Homo sapiens: one gene and its partners. The protein of the gene in region 2 interacts with the protein of the main gene of each other region in a biochemical or structural test. Each region holds a gene or a part of one and is shown on either strand. Other genes may lie near its edges.

Region 1 (7,000 bases), on a different chromosome or scaffold from region 2:
CCAAGATGATGTGGCCTCAGGCACAGCATAACTGGTACGGGCTTACTTCCATGTCGTGACAATACAAGGGCTTGACTTCCTAAATTGGGAGGTCCCTTCCAGCACTGACACCCTGCACTGACGGAACAGGGCAAAGACAGAAGCCTGTCAAAGCTGCTGCACCATGCCGAATCCCAGACAGAAGCCTCACTCAGTACGATCAGCCCCAGACACTTCTGCTTCCTTCTTTGGAAAATCCTCAATTTCCATCCAAGTTCTAAATGAATGAGAATCTTCTTTCCCAGACTCTGTGAGTGTATGGGGAAAAGGTGTAAACCTCAATTTCACATTGAGATACTGACATGTATTTCCCAATTGTTTCTTCCAGCCCTGCTCTTTAGGAGATTAAAATTTCCTTTCTACCGCAACCACATCTTCCACTCTCTTTTGATTCTTTTACCTTAACTGTTAAAGTTAACTTGAGAAGGAATGTGCAGATGGAAAGGGGCTAGTAAAAACGTCATCCTTAAGATGCCCTGGAGGACATTAACATTTACAGGCAAAAGCCTGAGGAGAAACAGGCTATTTGCAGGGTCTCAATGTATCTCCCTAAGATATGTGTTAACAACACAGAGAAAATACTGACTTCCCAGTGGAGAAAGGTGGCCAACAGTGCCTCAACCAAGCAACCCAGGCTTGCATCACCAGCCACTGGACAATATCACGCACTTCCTGATCAGATGATCTGAGCAGGGCTCAACGGCACGCCTGCGGTTTCTGTGCCAAAAAAATGCATCCCCTCATCCTGATGACGAGAAAATACCAGACAAACCCAAACAGGAAGATTCTACACAATACCTGGCCAGTGCTCTGGACATGTCAAGGTCATGAAAGGCAAGGAAAGATCAAGGAGCTATCATGGACTGCAAGAGACCAAGGGGACACAATGACTAAACACAATGGGGGATTCCAGGCCAGGATCCAGCAGACAGGAGCGCGAGAGGAAGCAGCGGACAGGACGCGAGAGGAAGCAGCGGACAGGACGCGAGAGGAAGCAGCGGACAGGAGCGCAAGAGGAAAGGTGGGTCACATTCAGACAAGGTCTACAGTTAATTGATGCTTTCATACCGATGTCAACTTCTTAGTTTTAATAGTTGTATAGTGGTTAAGATGTTAACATTAGGGGGACTTGGGAGAAGAATATAAGGAAATTGAACTGAGGGGACTATTAGCAGACTATATAGCACCTCTCAGATGATTGAGAAAAATAAAAATTACTCTGCAGGAAAAGGATGGGTAAAAGATATGAATAGGGTGGGGCATGGTGGCTCACACCTGAAATCCCAGCACTTTGGGAGGCCGAGGCGGGTGGATCACCTGAGGCCAGGAGTTCGAGACCAGCCTGGCCAACATGGTAAAACTCCATCTCCACTAAAAAATATAAAAATTAGCTGGTGTGGTGGTGGGTGCCTACAGTCTCTGCTACTCGGGAGGCTGAGGTGGGAGAATCACTTGAATCCAGAGGTGGAGGTTGCAGTGAGCTGAGATGGCGCCACTGCACTCCAGGCTGGGCAACAGCGCGAGACTCCATCTCAAAAAAAAAAAAAAAAAGGAAAAAAAAAGACGTTTCCAATAGCAAAATATGAAAAACAGTTCAAAAGTACCTCAATGAAAGAAGGAATGGATCCTAGTATCTTTCCACAGTGGAGCATCAGACAGCAGTGAAAAGGGAAGAACCGCTGCTATGTGCCTCGCCTGATGAAATTCCAACATGTGGAGTGAAAAAGGCAAGTCACAGAAGCATATATACTATACACTAAGAAATGACTTATATGAAGGTTAAGAATCAGTAAAACTCAAGACTGTCGTGTTTACAAATAATAAATGGGTATTATGGCAAAATCATAAGAACGGCAAAGGATTCATGACTTCAACTTGACTCTGGGTGCTAAGGGGGCAAACGGCTGTGAGAGTGAGAGGCATTTCTGGATACCCTGGGTGTGTATTAATATCAGCTGTGCACATTTATGCTGGTTATCAGAAAAATTGTACATTTTACTTTATATACGGTTAATTTTGAAAGGTAGAAAAAAACAAAAAGCAAACAGGCAAAACCCCCCAGATTTTCTGGTTATAGATTCAGACCCCAAATGAATCTAAATAACTGGGCTTTGTGAAGTTTTTAGACCTTAAAACGAAAGGAACAAATCTGAAGGGAACAACTGGGAGGAGTTGGATTTGCTTCCGAGGCGCTGATCTGAAGGCGTTCGTGAGTTGCCCATACCCACAGGTCCAAAGTGGGAAGCTGTTGTGGGGGGTGTTATTTCCTACTATGAACAAGATCTCTAAAAAAAACTAAATTTCTCGGGTTGTGCCAATGCTGATGATTCTAAGAACCCTCCGTATTCCCAGAAGAAAGCTATTGATCTTACCTGAGTGGCTCTTGCTCCTTCCCCTCTTGAGCCTTTTATATAGCATCTGCCTCCATCCCGTGTTTTGGTTGTTGATCATTACAACTTACGGTGATTTAGAGCTTGCTTGGACTGTTACACAGTTTTTAAGGAAATTCAACTAACGGTCCAAAATAGTCATGTAAAAAACACACTATCAGGTGCCCAGCAAGAAGGCCTACTCACTCACCAGCTGAAACTCGCTTCTCCGGCTGAAAGCCTCCCTGATGCCAGAATCCCTCCAGAGTGCGCTCAGGGCCGGGACGTACAGCTGGAAGGTGGCCGGCTCCACAGGCAGCCCCGCCTTGTTCTCGAAGGCCATCAGGAACATCCCATGCTTCTCATTTTCAGAATACTGCCAAGGAATGCCAAGCTTATCTCGTGCATCAACAAGAACCCTTGAGCCCTAGAAAATAAAAGAAAGAAGAGAGGATTTAATTGCATTCCAAAGACTAAACCACGCTAGAGAAGCTCAAAATGGGCATCCATTGTCATAACGCAGAAAACTCACAAGCTCTGAGCTGTGCAGCCTGAGTCTGTCTCTTGGTTTGTTTGTTGTGATGTGGAAAGTCTTAACTCTCAGCAGTATAACCTCACCAAGACAGACGCACATGGCCGAGAGCAGTGGCTCACACTGTGAGCCTCCCCTTTGGGAGGCCAAAGAGGGAGGACTGCTGGAACACAGGAGTCTGAGACCGGCCTGGGCAACAGAGCAAGACCCTGCTTCTACAAAAAATTAAATCAAATTAAAAACAGCTGGGCTTGGTGGTGGCACACCTGTAGTCTCAGCTGAGCGGGGAGGATTGCTTGAGCCCAGGAGGTCAAGGCTACGGTTATCTATGATTGCTGCACTATATTCTAGGCTGGGCAACAGAGCAAGACCCTGTTTCAAAAAAAAAAAAAGAAAAGAAAAAAGAAAAAAAAGAAAACAGATGTACATAAGCACCACAGAAAGAAGTCTGCTTTCTGCTATCATTCATTTGCAAAGCTACTGGAAAAAAGACAACTGGGCGGGGAGGAGGTGGCAACAATTTCAGAAAATTTCACTGGAAAATGAAGTGTATCAGTAAAAAAACAACTTTTTTTTTTTTTTTTTTCTTAGATGGAGTTTCACTCTTTTTGCCCTGGCCTGGAGTGCAATGGAGTGATCTCGGCTCACTGCAACCTCCGCCTCCCAGGTTCAAGCAATTCTCCTGCCTCAGCCTCCTAAGTAGCTAGGATTACAGGTACCTGCCACCAGGCCCGGCTAATTTTTTATTTTTAGCTGAGATTACAGACCACCACGGACTGCTAATTTTTGTATTTTTAGTAGAGAGGGGGGTTCCACCATGTTGTCCAGCCTGGTCTCGAACTCCTGACCTCAGCTGATCCGCCCGCCTCAGCCTCCCCGCCAAAAAAACAATGTTTTAACAACAACTATAGTAGCCTCCACCCCTTATCCGTGGCATAAGTTCCAAGACCCTCAGTGGATGTCTGAACGGTACCAAGCCCTACCTGTATTGTTTTTAAAGTTTAATTTAATTTATGAATTAGGCACAGTAAGAGATTAATAATAGCTAATAATAAAATACAACAATTATAACAATATACTGTCATGAAAGTTAAGTAAATATGGTCTCTCCTTCTGTCTCTCAAATGTGGTATCACCGTCCGCGCCTATTTTCCGTTGGCGGCTGGCTGTGGATAACGGGAGATGACTGTACTGCCAAGAGTACTACCAGCGCTACTATTGTCATCATCACTGAAATCTGGCAGCTCCTCTATTCCAAAAGATACAACTGCTTCTTCCAGCTTAAAACGGGTGGGAAAACATACAAATCCAGGCAGTCAGCAGTCATGAGACAGGAAAAGACTAAAATACGACAAGCCAAGTAGCCCGCCCACCAAAACGGGAGCCAGGGGATCATGTTCTAGATTTAACGTCACCATCGTTTGTGATGAGAAACTACTTTTCATTCTTTTGCTTGTTTCCTCATTGTTAAAGATAAAGTTAATGTTGTTCTGCCCCTTCTTACCTCATCAACAGGGTCAAAGGGATGAAGAAATAACTAACATAGTATTAGGGAATGCAGCCAGCCTTTGGAAAATATTCTCTCAGCAAAAACAGCACCCCCTGAGCAGTTAGGAGGTCTGTTCCACCATCCTTAGACTAATGTTTCGAAATCAGCAAGGCAGTGTTTATGAGAACTTCTGTGTTCTTCTGAGGGGCACACTGCATACTCTCTGGTATGGTCTACACTGGGGGTATACAGAGTGGTCAAGGGCCCTGAGAAGGCTATCAAGTACACATCTGTCCATCTGGAAAAGCCTTCTCATCTCAGAGCAATCTGAGGGACTCAGGCCAGCTGAGAGCAGCATCCCATCCTCCAGGACAGAGAAAACCAGGGTCACCTGCTCACTAGGCACTTATCTATGTTCCTTTTTTGGAGACTGGGTCTTGCTCTGTCACCCAGGCTGGAGTGCAGTGGCATGAACATGGCTCACTGCAATCTCGACCTTCTGGGCTCAAGTGATCCTTGCCCGTAGCCTCTCAAGGAGCTGGGACCACAGGCATGCCTCGTTACGCCCGGCTAATTTTAAGATTTTCGTAGAGTCAGGGTCTCACTATATTGCCCAGGCTAGTCTCAAACTCCTGAGCTCAACTGATCCTCTGGCCTTAGCCTTCCAAAGCACTAGGAATTACAGGTGTGAGCCACTGCATCCGGCCTTTTTTTTTTTTTCCTTTTTAAATAACAGTTTTACTGTGCTATAATCCATGTACCATATAACTCATCAATTTGAAGTGTACAACTTAATGATTTTTAGTTGGCACTTATCCTAAAAATCTTCATTTCTGACACCCAGGGCAGAGCAGATGAATCCATTCTGCCTCCTTCATCTCTCTCCTGCAGCATCAATTTGGTGCCTATAACTTCCACTTCTGCCTTGAACCACTGAGTCAGACGTAATGATGACCAAAGAGTAGTTGAAAGTCTCCTCCAGACCCAGCTGACCAGGACGGTCTGGTTAGAGATGCTCCCTGATTTTCCCCTCAGGACCTTGTCTGTCTGCCGTTGGAGACCATGCCTAGTTCTACCAATCCACAAACATTTGTTCAGTGTGTTTGTTTGTGGGGGAAACAAACTTTAAGAAGCAGTATCTGACCCCCAGAAACTCAGAGTCTGGCTAGAAAGACAAATGTATGGATAAAAAAAATACTTACCACCCACTCATGATTTTAAAAAACCTTTGCAAACTAGGAACAGAGAAATGCTTCAACTTGATAAAGAACACTGACAAAAAAACATACAGCTAACCTCATAATTAATGTGAAAGACTGAATGCTTTCCCTCCAACACTAGGAAAAGACAAAGATGCCTACTTCTGCTACTGCTATTCAACATGGTTCTGGAAGTTCTAGCCAGTGCGACAAGGTAGGAAAATGAAATAAAAGATCACACAGCTCAGGAAAAGCAGGGGGGAAAACAAATAGATTAGACACACAAAAAAAGAAAACACACAACTAAACCCATTTGCAGATAAAAAGATGATCTATGTTGAAAATCCCAAAGTAATCTACCAAAAAAACTCCTAGAATAAACAAATGAATCCAGAATAGTTGCAGGATATAATGTCAACACACGAAATTCAATTGTCTTTCTATATACTAGCAATGAACATGTGGAAAGTGAAATGAAAGATGTACTACTACTAACTATCACTAAAAAAACGAAACAGGTATAAATCTAACAAAATATGTGTAGGACTTATGTGCTGAAAACTGCAAAATGTTGAGGAAAGAAATTTTCAAAATCTAATAGATATACCACGGTCACGAATTAGAAGATTCAACACGGTACCAATATCCTTAAATTAATAAACAGGTTTAGCACAATTTCCATAAAATCCCAGCAGGATCTTTTGTAGATATAAATATGATTATTTGAAAATTTATATGAAAAAGCATTAAATTAGCTAAAGCAACTTTGAAAAAGAAAAGTGGGAACAATCAGTCTATCTGATTTTAAGACTTATTATATAGCTATGATAATCAAGACTGTGTGGTATTGGTGAGGTGACAGACCCACAGATCAATGGAACATAACAGAGAACCCAGGGATAGCCCCTGATACAGCTAGGTAATTTTTGTAAAAGTGCAAAAGCAATTAAAAAGAGGAAGCCTGGTCTTTTCAACAAACGCTGTTGGAGGAAGTGGACTTCCACAGGTAAAGAAAATTGGGGGGAGCGGGGGAGGGGGTGGGGAAGAACCTTGACCTAAACCTCACAGCTTATACAAAATCAAATCAAAATGTAGAACTATATATAACATAGGAGAATATCTTCAGGATGTAGGGTGTGCTCAAAGTTCTTAGATGTGACTCCAAATACATGATTCACACGAGAAAAATTATCAATAAATTGAACTTGATGAAAACGAAAATATTTTGCTCCGCCAAAGACCCTCTTAAGAGGCTGAAAAGAAGCTATGAACTGGGAGAAAATATTTGCCAACCACACATCTGCCATATCTGACAAAGGACTCATTTAGAATATACAAGGACATTCAAAACTCAACAGTTAGGCCAGGCACA
Region 2 (8,123 bases):
GGACGCCTGCACTGCTTCTGGAAGGAGCTGTCTGGACAGCGGTCCTCCAGTGCCTGGAACAAACATCCAAAATCCAGAGAGTTCACAGGGCCAGAGTACAAAGTGGGTATGCGGGAGGGGGGCAAGAGATGGCGCTGCAGAGGTGAGAAGGGCCTCCCAGGGGTCTTACCATCCCAGGGAGTCTCATTCTCCTCTCCCAGGATATCCTCACCCACCCCAACCAGGTATGTCCTCTCTCCTTCCCAGGGGCTTCTTCACTTTCCCGCATCCCCCCTCTCCCCAGGATGTATCAGCCCCTGTCAGGGGCTCTCTCTCTCCCTCCCCACCCAGGAGAGTCCTCACCCTCTTCCCAGGAGTGCTGGAACTGCAGGGGCCAGGGCTGGGGAAATGTGTCACCATCCCCAGTCCCTGACCCACCCACCCTGTCTCTCCACAGGCCCTGGGTGCCAGGCCCTGTGGATGCACAAGGTCCCAGCATCATTGATGGTGAGCCTGGGGGAAGACGCCCACTTCCAATGCCCGCACAATAGCAGCAACAACGCCAACGTCACCTGGTGGCGCGTCCTCCATGGCAACTACACGTGGCCCCCTGAGTTCTTGGGCCCGGGCGAGGACCCCAATGGTACGCTGATCATCCAGAATGTGAACAAGAGCCATGGGGGCATATACGTGTGCCGGGTCCAGGAGGGCAACGAGTCATACCAGCAGTCCTGCGGCACCTACCTCCGCGTGCGCCGTGAGTGGCCCAGCCCTGGCCCCTACTCCCACTGTCCCGCTGGGGACACTCGGTTTATCTTTGAAGTGGGGATAGAGCCAGTACCTTCAATGTGGGTTTCAAACCGGCTTGGACAGAGGGACGGACATTCTCCTCTGCAGAGTGGGGTCTCTGGGGGGTCTGGGGCCTTGCAGGAGGTGGGCGGGGCCAGGAGGCTAGGGAGGGCAAGAGGGGCCAGGGCTCTGAGCCATACTACCTCCTTGCAGAGCCGCCCCCCAGGCCCTTCCTGGACATGGGGGAGGGCACCAAGAACCGAATCATCACAGCCGAGGGGATCATCCTCCTGTTCTGCGCGGTGGTGCCTGGGACGCTGCTGCTGTTCAGGGTGAGCCCCCTCGGACCTCTGAGTCAGCCGGGCGAGGGCCTGGGCCGAGGGACCCCCAATACCCAGGTAGCCCTCTAGAGCCTGAGGTTCCCCATCCAAAACTTGGGAGAATGAAAGCACCCACCATATAGGGGCTGTGGGAGTTAAATGAATGAATATAAAGAAGGGACTTGAACTGGCGCTGAGCCCAGGGGGTGTCTTCAATTTAGTTTCCCCTTCTGGGCTGTCCTCACGTCCACCTCCCCCCAAGAAGAGTCTCATTCTTCTCCCTAAGAGTGTCCTCACTCCCCTCCTGCCCTCACCCAGGAGTGTGGTTACCCTCCAGGTGTAGCCAAGACCAGGGAAGGTGGGGCCTGGTCCTCCCAGAATCTCTGATCTGTACCAGCCTCTCCTTAGGCACTACAGAAAGTGTGACTGTTATTGTTATTATTCATGGAGAATAGTAAGGGAGTGGAGACTCAAGAAGACGCTAGCTTGGGAGGCCGAGGCAAGAGGATCACTTGAGGCCACAAGTTTGAGACCAGCCTGGGCAACACAGCAAGACCCTATCTCTACACACACAAAGTCTTAAAAAAAAATTAGCCAGGCATGGTGGCACACACCTATAGTCCCAGCTACTCAGGAGGCTGAGGTGGGAGGATTGCTTGAGCCCAGGAGTTCAAGGCTGCAGTGAAATATGATGTTGCCACAGCACTTCAGCCTGGGCAACTGAGGGAGAAGAAAGAGAGAGAGAGAGAAAGAGAGAGAGAGAGAGAGAGAGAGAGAGAGGGCGAGAGGGAGGGAGGGAAGGAAGGGAAGGGAAGGAAGGAAGGAAGGAAGGAAGGAAGGAAGGAAGGAAGGAAGGAAGGAAGGAGAACACTGGTTGTAGACTCAGAGAGAACTGTTACATAACCAGTATGTGGCCTTGGGGACATCTCTTACCCTTTCTGGAAAAGTACTTCCTGGCATCCAGGAGGGTCTGAAAGATATTCACCTCCCCCTGCTCACTGAGGCACCCACCCCACCCACCCCTACAGAAACGATGGCAGAACGAGAAGCTCGGGTTGGATGCCGGGGATGAATATGAAGATGAAAACCTTTATGAAGTGAGTGAAGGGTGGGGATGGGGTAGGGGCAGTTGTGTTAGGGGTGGGGGTGTTCCCTCTGGGGGTGGCTGGGGGCAGGGACCCCAGGTGTCAGGGTGCTGATGTTCGCTGCCTCATTTCCATCCCAGGGCCTGAACCTGGACGACTGCTCCATGTATGAGGACATCTCCCGGGGCCTCCAGGGCACCTACCAGGATGTGGGCAGCCTCAACATAGGAGATGTCCAGCTGGAGAAGCCGTGACACCCCTACTCCTGCCAGGCTGCCCCCGCCTGCTGTGCACCCAGCTCCAGTGTCTCAGCTCACTTCCCTGGGACATTCTCCTTTCAGCCCTTCTGGGGGCTTCCTTAGTCATATTCCCCCAGTGGGGGGTGGGAGGGTAACCTCACTCTTCTCCAGGCCAGGCCTCCTTGGACTCCCCTGGGGGTGTCCCACTCTTCTTCCCTCTAAACTGCCCCACCTCCTAACCTAATCCCCCCGCCCCGCTGCCTTTCCCAGGCTCCCCTCACCCCAGCGGGTAATGAGCCCTTAATCGCTGCCTCTAGGGGAGCTGATTGTAGCAGCCTCGTTAGTGTCACCCCCTCCTCCCTGATCTGTCAGGGCCACTTAGTGATAATAAATTCTTCCCAACTGCAGACCTTGGCAGGAGTCGTGGATCTTACGGGAACCGCCTCTCCCACATGTCCCTCAGACCCAGGAGTCCCAGCCCAAGCCACTCCCTGCCCACTCCCCACACCTGGGACCAGGTAGCCAGTCTGGGCTGCCCTCCTGGGAGAACAAGATGTCTCTTGGGAAGGTCCCCAGACCAACTGAAGGACTGGTTTGGCCCTCTTTGCAGGGCCTCACCCTAGGGTCATATCCTTAAGCAAGAAGGGGACAAGATCAAGATGGCTGTGGCTACCAAATTACTTACACTTTTTTTTTTTTTTTTTTTTTTGAGACAGAGTCTCACTCTGTTGCCCAGGTTGGAGTGCTCACTGCAACCTCTGCCTCCTGGGTTCAAGCGATTCTCCTGCCTCAGCCTCCCAAGTAGCTGGGATTACAGGCGCCTGCCACCATGCCCAGCTAATTTTTGTATTTTTAGTAGAGGCGGGGTTTCACCATGTTGGCCAGACTGGTCTTGAACCTCTGACCTCAGGTGATCCACCTACCTTGGCCTCCCAAAGTGCTGGGATTACAGGCGCCTGCCACCACGCCCGGCCGCTTTTTTTTTTTTTTTTTTTTTTTTTGAGGCAGAGTCTGACTCTGTCGCCCAGGCTGGAGTGCAGTGGCGCAATCTCAGCCCACTTCAACCTCCACCTCAAGCGATTCTTGTACCTCAGGCTCCCGAGTAGCTGGGATGACAGGCATGTGCTACCACACCCAGCTAATTTTTGTTTTAGTAGAGACAGGGTTTCGCCATGTTGGCCGGGCTGGTCTCGAACTCCTGACCTCAAGTGATCCACCATGCTTCGGCCTCCCAAAGTGCTGGGATTACAGGCATGAGCCACTTTATGCGTATTTAAGCCTTGGAAACACAGGGACTATCTTGTGGATTGGGGCTAGTACAGAATTCAGACTGCAGCCTTTTCCCGATGCGTTGACTTACAGAAGGGGCATTTTGGAGGGTCTGTGGTCCTAACCTGGGGATAGCAGGGAGATCCCGGGGCAATGACAGAGAGGCACAGAGACACGGATTTCCTGAGAAAGGGAGAGGAGAGAGGCTGAGACCCAGGGATCATGAAGGGGACGAGCAAGGGAAGGAAGAGATGATGAGACCCTGGGAATCCGGGAGAGAGACAGGGACGTGGAGAGAAAGGGACAGAGAGAGAGCGAGAAGGAAAGGAAGAGACAGAAGGGAGAAGGGGCAACCGAAAATGGGCACGAAGAGGCCCAGGCACAGCAACAGCTGGGGAAATGACAGAGACTGAGACGGAGATGCAGAAAGATACAGAGAGAGCTGGAGAGGGTAGAGAAGGGCTTTCGGGGAGAAAGTGATGGAGGGACAGAGAGGAGAGGTGGAGGCCAAGGAGGGAAAGACCCCAGTAGAGAAAGACAGAGGGACAGAGAAGGGGATGCAGACGCAGGCGGGAGCACACCCACAGAGGCGAAGGAAGGGCGCAAGACCATGAGAACCACAGACGCGGAAAGCCGGGGAGGTCGTGGCTCGGTCTAGGGCGCACGGGGAGCAGGGCTTGCCCCCCAGCACCTCCGGGGAGGTGACCCCAGCCGGGAGATGCGAGTCCCGCGGAGCCCGCGCCCGGCGGACGGACCGATGGACAAAGCCGGGGAGAGCTCGGGCGCGGCCGGGGCGGGGGCCGGTGCCCGCAGGGACCCGGGCGCAGCGGGGAAAGGAGGGGCGGGCAAGCGGCGAGAAGGGGAAGGAAGCGGAGGTGCCGGGCGGGCGCGGGGCGCGGGCAGGAAGCGGGGAGGGGCGGCGGGGCGGGGGCCTCCGGAAAAACGCCCCGACTTCCTGCCCCGCCAGAGCCAGGAAGCGGGAGCCGGGACCCAGGGCCCGGGATCGCCGAGCCCGACCTCGGGCGCCCCGCCGGTCACCTCCGCGCGGACACCAGGTACTCGGTCCCCGGCCCCGCCCGGCCTCCTCCCCTCGGCTGTTGGGGGAAGTGGGGAGGAGGAGGGAGGGGCTGGGGCGCTGCCGGCAGCGGAGGGGCCCCCTTCGGACCCCACGGAACCAGCGGCCGCCCCTCCTTGGGCCTCAGTTTTCCCATCTGTCAAAGGGAGCAAAGAGGGGAGAACTCACACTTGACGAGTGCCCCATAGGTGGGGACGAACGGTGCGAGGCCGGGGCCAAGGCCTCCCACCTGCTCAGTGGAGAACGGACGATCACTACCATTGTACGGGTGGGGAAACCGAGGCCCGGGGAGCCAAACCGACTCGTCCCAGGGAACGCACATCGTGAGAAAGTGTGGAGTTGGGATTTGAACTCGCACGTGCTTTCCGCAAAGCGCCATCCTCCAACCCCCGCATGCTTTAGGGCCACCTAAAAATGAAAAACAACAATAACAACAACGACGAGGGTCGCTGTGAAGCTGAAAGTTGCAGAGTGCATTTGAAAGAGTTTTCGGAAAGCTCTTTTCTAGGTCATTAATTATACCGTGAGAGACAGGTGTAGGGAGAGAGCTGGAGGCCTTCTCCCATTGTACGGATGGGAAGACTGAGGTCTACAGAGAAGTCATTACTTTTTGCAGATTACACTGCATGTCAGAGGGAAAGTTGTGCTGGAACTCAAGACTATTGCTTTTCCGGTTCCAAAGGAAGGGGCTGGGGGTGGGAGACGGAGGGGATTGATGTACGAGGATTGGAAATTCAGCGGGTCCCCTAAGTGGGGAGACTAATAGGACGGGGAGCCCCAGTCCGCCGTCCGAGTGCTCAGCGCTGGGGTGACTAGGAGATCTCCGATCGAACTCGGGAGGAGTTGGACCCATCTGCACCTCCGGGCGCGGGGCGGGGCCCGGGGAGTGACGGGGGCAGTCGAGATACGGAAACGCTGGCCCTCCAAGACAGGCCAGAGCGGCCCTATCTGGCCTGCGTGGCGCAGTACAGCGCTAGAGCGGCCGGCGGGAGGAGTAGAGTCGTCGGGGCCGGAGCCCGGCAGGAGCCGGGCTAGAGCGGCTGGCAGGAGGAGTGGAGCTGGGCGCAAAGGTGGACTCAGGGCGGCTAGAGCGACGCGGCGGCAGGGGTGGGGAGAGTGCGGAGCCCGAGCGCGGAGGCTTCGGTTCCGGTGGCGGCGATGGCTTCTCTTTCCACCTGGAGCAGGTGAGGGACGCGGTCCCCAGCGGGTGTCAGACCCTGACTCTGCACGTCCTCCCCGGCATCCCTGGCCGTGCACACTGCCACGTCCCCCGTAGGATTTAGGGCCCGCGTAAGACCCGCCACGTCCATGTAAGATTTGGGTCTCGTGTAGACCCGCCTCATTCCGTATAAAGTCTTACAGACCCTCCAGGTTCCTGCCAGCCCCCCATGGAGAACTGGCTTCTTATAGACGTGGGGTCCTCATAGACCAGTGGCATCCCCTAGAATCCGGGGCTCTATAGACCATGGGTCTCGGGACCCACCACGCACCCCTATGGAATTCTGAGTCCCTTTTAAGTCTCCAGAGGTTCCACAGACTGGCAGCTGTCCCTATAGAATCATGATCCTGTATGATCCCTGGATCCTTTAGACCCACTGTGTGTCAAATAGAATCTGGGGAGTTACACATTCCAACGACTCTTTTAGGTTCTTTAAGGCTCCAGAAGTTCTTGGAGACCCTGAGTCACCTGCTCAACACATTATAGACCCTGAGACCTCCATAGAACTCAACACCCATGTGGCCCCCCAACCCATGGACCTTCTAAACCAGCCCTAACCCCCCAGCGCCCCATGCACGCAGTGTTCCCTCTGCTGGACCCCCCAGGCCTTGTCAGTTGCCTATAGATCCATCTATTCTCTGACAGCTTCACCTATAATTCTCCAGCCTTTGTGGGACTCCCCCAAACCCCTCCTCCTAAACAGGCGACACTCCTCGCCTCCATCATCTCCAACCCCCAAGCCTCTGTGGAGCAGCCGTATCCAACTTGCACTCCTGCCTAGGCCATAGTGACCACATACCCGTGACTTTTCCAGGCATCCATAAGAAGACATGATGTGTCTCAGAGCTTTGGTTCAGATTTTAGTTTCTGAAGGGTAGGGTGGGGGCTCCCCATGCTCTGAAGCAATGCTCTCTGTTTTATTTTGTTTTATTTATTTATTTATTTATTTTTGAGACGAAGTCTCACTTCTGTTACCAGGCTGGAGTGCAGTGGCGCGATCTCAGCTCACTGCAACCTCCGCCTCCCGGATTCAAGCGATTCTCCTGCCTCAGCCTCCCGAGTAGCTGGGACTACAGGCTCGTGCCACCACGCCCAGCTAATTTTGGTATTTTTAGTAGAGACAGGGTTTCACTATGTTGGCCAGGATGGTGTCGATCTCTTGACTTCGTGATCCGCCCGCCTTGGTCTCCCAAAGTGCTGGGATTACAGGCGAGAGCCACCGTGCCTAGCCTATTTTATTTTAAGACAAGGTCTCACTCTGTCGCCCAGGCTGGAGGGCAGTGGCACAATTTTGGCTCACTGCAACCTCTGCCTCCTGGGCTCAGGCGATCCTCTCATCTTAGCCTCCCAAGTAGCTATGACTACAGGCATGAACCACCACACCTGGCTATCTTTTGTAGAGATGGGGGTTTCACCATGTTAGCCAGGCTGGTCTCGAACTCCTGAGCTCAAGTGATCCACCTGCCTTGGTCTCCCAAAGTGCTGGGATTACAGGTGTGAGCCACTGTGTCCACCAAATGCAGTTTATTTTAAATGCGTAAACTCTGTAGCCCAACTGCCCAGGTCTGAGTCCTGGTTCTGCCTCTTATGAGCTGTGCCTCAGTTTCCTTCTTTGTTAAATGGAGGTGAGAATAATAATGATCTCTTGGAGTCACCGAGAGGATTAAATGAGTTATTACCTGTCAACCAGCGATGCCATGCCTGGCACATACTAAGTGTCTCTTTTGTGTCAGCTGTCATTTCATTATTATTGTGATAAGGAATAAGGAGATAAGAACTTGGCAAGTGCACAGTTCCAGACCTGGCACCAAGCACTTGCAAAGATAATGAGTATCCCCTCCTTTGCCTTTTTAAAATTTCCCTGCCTCAGTTGAGCGTTTCTACCTCTGAGTGGGATGAGCATGCACCCTCCACGTCCGTGGTCATGTTTCATAGTGAGACAGGGTCTCACTGTGTTCCCCAGGCTGGTCTCAAACTCCTGAGCTCAAGCGATCTTCCCACCTTGGCCTCCCAAAGTGCTGGGGTTACAGGCATGAACCACCTCACCTGGCCAGTTTGCAAATTTATTAAAGTGAATGTTTAACAGTACTTGAATCTTGAATTGCCCAAGCTTAGATATTGGACAATACACTTTGTGGGAAATAATAA
Region 3 (7,000 bases), on a different chromosome or scaffold from region 2:
CTTCAACTTCGTTACAACCTGTAGTCCATTTATCCTAACATCTTTTTATTATCCCTTATATCTTCAACCCCCTCTGCATATAGCTTCAGGTCCACGGTCCATCATTTATAATTCTCTTGAATATATCCTCAACTCCCTTGACTTTTCAGCAGCCTTTGACTCAGTTTATCATTGCTTTCTAATGTAAAACCTTTATTCATTTGGCTTCCAAGAAACAATACTTGCCTGATTTCCTCTGTCTCATTGGTTACTCCTAAGTCTCCTTTCCTAATTCCTCTTTATCTCCCCTACCTCTTAATGTTGGAGGACCTCAGGGTTCAATACTTGCACTTCTCTTTCCTAACAACACTGCTTTGGAGATCTTGTAGTTGCTTGGTTTTAAATACAATCTGTATGCTGATAAATACTAACTTTGTAACCCTGTCTGTATTAGGCCGTTTGCATTATTGTAAAGAAATACCTGAGGCTGGATAATTTATGAAGAAAAGAGGTTTAATTGGCTCATGGTTCTGCAGGCTATACAAGCATAGCTCCAGCATCTGCTTCTGGTGAACACCTCAGGAAGCTTACAATCATAGTGAAAGGCAAAGAGGAGTAGGTGTTTTACATGGCAAGAGCAAAGAGTGAGCGGGAGATGCCACACACTTTTAAACAACCAGATCTCACGAGAACTCATAATTGTGAGGATAGCACCAAGCTATTCATGAGGGATCCACCTCCATGACCCAAATACCTCCCACAGGCCTCACCTCCAACACTGGGGATTACATTTCAGCATAAGGTTTGGAGGTGACAAACATCCAAACAATATCCCTATCTCTCATTTCTTTTCTGAACTTCGAGCTCTTATATCTAACTGCCTCTTCAATATCTCTTTTTGTATGTCTTATAAGCATCTCAAATATAACATGTCCAAACTGAACTCCTGATAACCTTTCCCTGACCTGGGTCTTTCCAGTCTTTCCCATCTCAGTAAATAGTACCTTTTTAGTTGGTTATGCCTGAAACCATGGAGTCGTCCTTGACTGTATTTTTTGTTATATTATGTGTACATCCAAACTCTCAGAAAACCCTACTGGCTTTACCTTAAAAACTTACCCAGAACTCAGCTACCACCACTAGAATCTAATGACACTATCTTGGTCTAAACAGTTGTCATCTCTCAGCTGGATTATTTCAATAACCTCAAAACTGATCTCCCTGCTTCTCTTCTTCACCCCCTTCAGATTGTTCTCCACACAGTAACCATCATAATTCCATTTAAATGTAAGTCAGATCATGTTTTCCTCAGCTTAAATTATGCATTAAACTCAGAGTAAAAGCCCAGGTCTTTATTACATTTCCCTGAAAGGTCCAAATGAGAATCCTCTCTCTTTGTCCCTTCTCTGGCCCCCACTGCTATACTCACCCACTAGGTAACAATGTTTCAATGAATCCAGCCTCCTTACAGCTTCTCATACACTTTAGACATGTTTCCCTTTGGGGCCTTTGCATTTGCTCTTTCCTGTGCTTGGGGTAGTCTTCCTCCACATAACCATAGAGCTTATTCCCTCACCTCCCTCACATGGTTGCTCAAATGTTACCCGTGAGGCCTTCCCTGAGCATAGTCTTTTAAAATATAACTTTATATTCCTACCCTCAAAATAAACTCCCAACCTTTACTTTTCTCTATAACATTTATTACCATCTTGCATACTTGATTTTTGTCTGTCTCCATGTATACTCCTCCAGGGCAGAAATTTTTGCCTCTCATGATCACTAACATATCCATAGGGCTACAACTATGTCAGTGGATATTTGTTGTGAATGGATGAAACTTGTAGAATGTCCTTAAGAAGGAGGTTGGCATTCTCAATAGGAGGGAACACCAACCACAGCAGTTCTGTAAGGACTTTTCTTAAACTGGATTTTCAGAACTCAGGTTGCCTGTATGTTTATTCTTTTGATTTAATAAGAAGCAGAGACCATGATCTCTAGAGAACATCATAGAAATAGTGTTGCTAGTATTTGTAGCACTTAACATTTGTAAGTAAACTCATTTATTATATAAACATTTGGACAGTGGCAGAATTTAATTGGTTACCATAGTGGTGCAATTCTGGAATATGCAAACTTTATCAATGAAAAATCCAGGAAACTTCCAGTTTTTACATCTTTCCCAGAAAATACACTGGCAGCAGTATAGGAAGCTCAGCCATGTTCCTGTGGCACACCTTAGACGAATTTGAAGCTGGGGAAATGGCTGAGTGGTAGCATAGCTAACTCCCTGGAATACAAGAAAGAGTACATCAGCCAGGGTAGAACAACCAGAACTATTTTAGATGTAGTAGACAAAATAGAGGTAGTGGTCATGGGGAACAAGGAAGCCAAGGCACAACAAGCTTAAGAAACTTTGTGGATTTATCTTTTACGTTTAATGCATCCAGAGGTAAAAAGATCCAAACTGTATAGTTATTTAATATAAAGACCCAAGACATACACATTTTTAATATTCTGCCATATGTGCTTTTTAAGTAATATATATATATAATACCAAAACTTTTCTAAAAGAAGATTTTGTCTTATATTAACCTCCATAGTTACAACATAAAGTAATGATTGTCACCAAATAAAAGGAAGTTTAAAATTAAGTAATTTTAATTTGGCATGACTAAAGCTCAGTAACTAAATGTTAACCATTAGTAAATTTAACTAAAGGGGATAGATAGTCATTGCACTATTCTCACATCTTTTCTAAAGGTTTGGAATGAGGGGGAAAATGAAAATACATGAACAAGCTCTTTTTTTTTTTTTTCCGAGACAGAGTTTCACTCTTGTTGCCCAGGCTTGAGTGCAGTGGTGCGATGTTGGCTCACTGCAACCTCCACCTCCCGGGTTCAAGTGATTCTTCTTCCACCAAGTAGCTGGGACTACAGGTGTGCACCACTACGCCCGGCTAATGTTGTATTTTTAGTAGAGGCAGGGTTTCACTGTGTTGGCCAGGCTAGTCTTGAACTCCTGACCTGGGGTGATACACCTGCCTTGGCCTTCCAAAGTGTTGGTATTACAGGTGTGAGTCATTGCCCCTGACCATTAACAAGCTCTTATAAAGAGTTTATTGACTGTCAAGATGATAAAAATATTGCTATGCCATGGGAATAGAAAAAGAAAGATGATAAAATCTGCCAGTAGAGATATTGATTCTGGATGATGAAGTCATAGTTTAGTATTGGGCTTATACCTCAGATTGTTAGCACTTGGGCAGTAGTTGTGTCATAAATTTGCAAATAAAATTATTTAGGATCAAAAGATCTGTTTCTAAAAAATTATATACAGCTCTAAATCACACAAAAGCAAATTAAAGTGGTTAAGAATTCCTTTTTAATTCTAGTTTACTGTCATTGTTTCTAGTCACCTCAGTTGCTAGAAACTTGTGTTATGTCTTGTTTTCTGTCAGGATAGCAAGTAATAAAAAATGTTACTCACTTGTAATTATGCTGTTTTAAATTGTTGCAGTATACATTCAAGAAATTTATATATTTATAATTGCATATTTTTTAAATCATAGGAGCAATTTACAGCAATGAGGGATTTGTATATGAAGAACGGCCAAGGTTTTGCACTAGTATATTCTATTACAGCTCAGTCCACGTTTAACGACTTACAGGACCTGAGGGAACAGATTTTACGGGTTAAGGACACGGAAGATGTAAGTATTTTTTCTCTCTGTAAGATGTTATGCCATCTCTCTGTGGCCAAATAAAAAAGTGCCTGTTTTCTCTATTAGTAGAGGATTTGGAAGCTATCTACCACATGCCTGAAAGAGCCCCTGTGACCAAAAGAAAAAAATTTAACTTTCAAAATTAACCTCAAAATTATGTGGTGAGATGTTTAGAAAATGAGGACATATGTGATAAAGTACTCATTGTGCTATAGGTTAAAAAGTGCAGTAGAGGAAAAAGAGGAGCCAAAGAATACTTCATAGAAGTGGGACCTGAGTTGAGCTTTGAAAGGTGATGGTTGTGTCAGAAACAGTGTTCAAAGAACATTATTAAGATCCATAGTGGTGTGTTTTTATTTCTAAAATTCCATTGGTATAATTCACACATCACAGTCTACCTCCCGGGCTCAAGTGATCTTCCCACCTCAACCCCCTGAGTAGTTGGGACTACAGGTGTGTGCCACCCTGCCTGGCTGATTGTTTTTGAATTTTTTAGTAGAGACCAGGTCTCACTATGTTACCCAGGCTTGTCTCAGGCTCCTGAGCTCAAGCAGTCCTCCTACCTCAGCCTCCCTGGGATTACAGGCATGAACCATTGTGCCTGGCCAGGATTATATTCTTAAAATAATTTGGCATATCTATGTAGTAGGATCTCTTCCATTTTTTTTTTTTTTTTGTCTCTTCCTTCTTCCTTCGCCTCTTCCCCTCAACATATACTTTTCGTTAGTATTTGATGAAGCTTGCGGTCCCAACTAATGCATTTCAGTTGGTGGCAGATAATTGCTTATTTATTTTTTTAAAAGGCTAAGTAATGAGTATGTTATTGTTCATTTTACGTTTTTTTCTTCCCACAGGTTCCAATGATTTTGGTTGGCAATAAATGTGACCTGGAAGATGAGCGAGTAGTTGGCAAAGAGCAGGGCCAGAATTTAGCAAGACAGTGGTGTAACTGTGCCTTTTTAGAATCTTCTGCAAAGTCAAAGATCAATGTTAATGAGGTAACCTACAACTGCTGGGCAGCACAAACAAGTGCCTTTTTAGTTTGCTTTAAGTTAACAGCCAGACTTTTAAGAAAAAATTTTTATCTTTTAAGCAATCTTGATTCCATAATTTTATAGGAAACACTAAGTAATTCCTGGAAACTATATTTTTTAGCTTGCATAAGGTCACTTTGATGGCTGTATGAGGATACTTAAATTTACCTTATTGTAAAAGAGGAAGCTAAAATTGAAGAATGTGTGTAAAATCCTGCTAAGCCTCTAAGTGATATGCGATAAAGTGGTGTGTAAAAATTGTTACATCACCTTATATTGTAATAATTATTTACCCAAATGTATATAAATAGGTTGTAAAGTCAAGTTGGAAAATAATATGTTTTTATGGATATCACAGAATTGTGTTCTGAGTCTTACCTCACCTTTGGTGCATGACTCATAAGTGGGTAATCTGTGTGGGTATGGACATGTACCTGGAATTCACTCAGTCCTTTAGGCCTGATACAGCTGATGCACAAGGCTTTTGTGTGGGGCATGGGGGTGGGGTCACTGGGTTAAGCACTCCACTATCTTGAAAACAGCTGTGGACAAGAATACTTAGCAAATAAGCTGCATGCCTGGGTGTAAAGGGCCAACAGTTTACTAGTTTACTGGGCCCCTAAAAATTTAGAGCAATTTCCAACTGTCCCCACCAGTCAACCTTAAATAGTTCCCTTGCTTTTGTTAACCTTAACATAAGCCTTTTAAAAAAATAAAAACAACAGAGTGGGCTTCTTTCCTGCCGTTGCTTTTGCCATTTGTAGCATTACAGGTAATCAGTCAGAATTCAGATCACTTAACTACATAGGTGAGAGTGAGAGTGGGTTAAGTTATGAGTCCTCTGTTTTTGCTATTCTCTCTGGCCTGTGGTTCTGCTGGCCACTTTTTCTTGACTAATATTATGCTTATAGACTATTTGACTTTTAAAAATGACCAGGTTACTTTAAACACCTGGCAGGTAAAAAAAAATTAAGCTTGCTTCAACTTCTGTATTTTACAGATAATCAAGAATGCCAAAGCTTGTTTTTTTATGTGAAACCATTTTTAACAAGTACATAAAAACAAGAAATTTATAAATTGTATTTATTCAGCAAATATTTATTGACTATTGTGTGTCTGGCACTGTGTCAGGCCCTCAGGTAACAGTCACTCAGACAGACACTATTCCTGCCCTGAAGAAGTTTGCATCCTACTGGGGGAACAAGTCTTTCAGCAATAATTAAAGAAAAAAAGTGATTTTGATAAAGAATTTGTTAGAAATTGTGAATATGTTTGGCTAGCAGAACAGTGACATGAGGTCACTATCTACAAGATAATTGGCCTTACGGGATGTGGTTCCTTGCTGTCCTTGTCCTTACCTCCATGGGACCCACCAACCAAGTTCATCAGACTCCAGGCTCCGGTGGGGCTGGGTTGGGCCTGAGTCCAGTGCATAGGACTTCTCCCTTTGGGAGCCAGAGGACAGTACACTACATGTTTGTGAGAACCTACATGCTATTAAACTTCCTCTGGATTAGTTTCCAATGCAGCAGAGATACTTTTTCATAGCAGTCTTGTTAAAGCAGAGAGTTTATAAACGAGGGTTTATAAAAACAAACATAGAAAAACCATAAAATGAAATGCATTAGCCATCTCAAGAATCTTTACTTTTTGGAAAACATACAAACTTTATGCTCAGTTCTTGAGAGTGGGGAGAATGGAGCAGATAATTTGAGTTTCTTTTAATATTTTTCTCTTTATAACCCAATAATCCAGCTACAGGATTTCTTTGGTAGTTAATAGTTCCTCACACAACTTTTGCCTTGTAAATTTTTTTGTGAGTTTTGAATGCCTGAAGTATAGAGAGATACTTTCAAAAATTCACCTCTTGGCCTTAAATTTGAAAACAGACACCAGGACATACTGCTTGGCTAAAGAGCCCCCTAATTCATTCATATATATATATATATAATTTTTCAAAAACTCTTATTCACACCACTTTGCAACGTTCTTAAAGTAGTATATGGCTATGCCAGAATCACAGTAGTCTTAATCAAGAATTAATTGTTCTTTGCTGAGGCTGGAATAGTAATTGGAATCAAGACAACCCAATTTAGGAATGGGAGAGGGATTGAGAAACTCTATTCTGTGTTCCCTTTAGATTTTTCTATAGTTCAGAGAGATGAGGAAGAACCTAGGCTGGGGCCTTTCAGCATTTCTAACCAAATATTATAGTTCGAACTTGCCCTCATCACTGAACCATCTGCTGCTGTGAGGTAGGCAATGT

Evidence for each region.
Region 1: the proteins of ARHGEF1 (region 2) and GNA12 form a complex in vitro, tested with the Homo sapiens proteins (one study listed by BioGRID).
Region 3: of the proteins of ARHGEF1 (region 2) and RAP1A, one has a biochemical effect on the other in vitro, tested with the Homo sapiens proteins (one study listed by BioGRID).

Annotation. Positions count from the first base shown.
Region 1 is NC_000007.14:2,792,309-2,799,308, forward strand, and holds part of GNA12 (guanine nucleotide-binding protein subunit alpha-12), read right to left. Parts: intron 2,836-7,000; coding exon 2,620-2,835; intron 1-2,619. UniProt on the Homo sapiens protein: Guanine nucleotide-binding proteins (G proteins) are involved as modulators or transducers in various transmembrane signaling systems. Activates effector molecule RhoA by binding and activating RhoGEFs (ARHGEF12/LARG).
Region 2 is NC_000019.10:41,878,554-41,886,676, forward strand, and holds the start of ARHGEF1 (rho guanine nucleotide exchange factor 1), read left to right. Parts: upstream 1-4,630; 5' UTR 4,631-4,736; exon of another isoform or gene 4,737-5,914; coding exon of another isoform or gene 5,915-5,940; intron 5,941-8,123. Other genes in the region: CD79A (B-cell antigen receptor complex-associated protein alpha chain isoform 1 precursor), read left to right, coding at 437-736, 982-1,100, 2,117-2,185, 2,314-2,427. UniProt on the Homo sapiens protein: Seems to play a role in the regulation of RhoA GTPase by guanine nucleotide-binding alpha-12 (GNA12) and alpha-13 (GNA13) subunits. Acts as a GTPase-activating protein (GAP) for GNA12 and GNA13, and as guanine nucleotide exchange factor (GEF) for RhoA GTPase.
Region 3 is NC_000001.11:111,699,789-111,706,788, forward strand, and holds part of RAP1A (ras-related protein Rap-1A precursor), read left to right. Parts: intron 1-3,547; coding exon 3,548-3,688; intron 3,689-4,554; coding exon 4,555-4,698; intron 4,699-7,000. UniProt on the Homo sapiens protein: Counteracts the mitogenic function of Ras, at least partly because it can interact with Ras GAPs and RAF in a competitive manner. Together with ITGB1BP1, regulates KRIT1 localization to microtubules and membranes.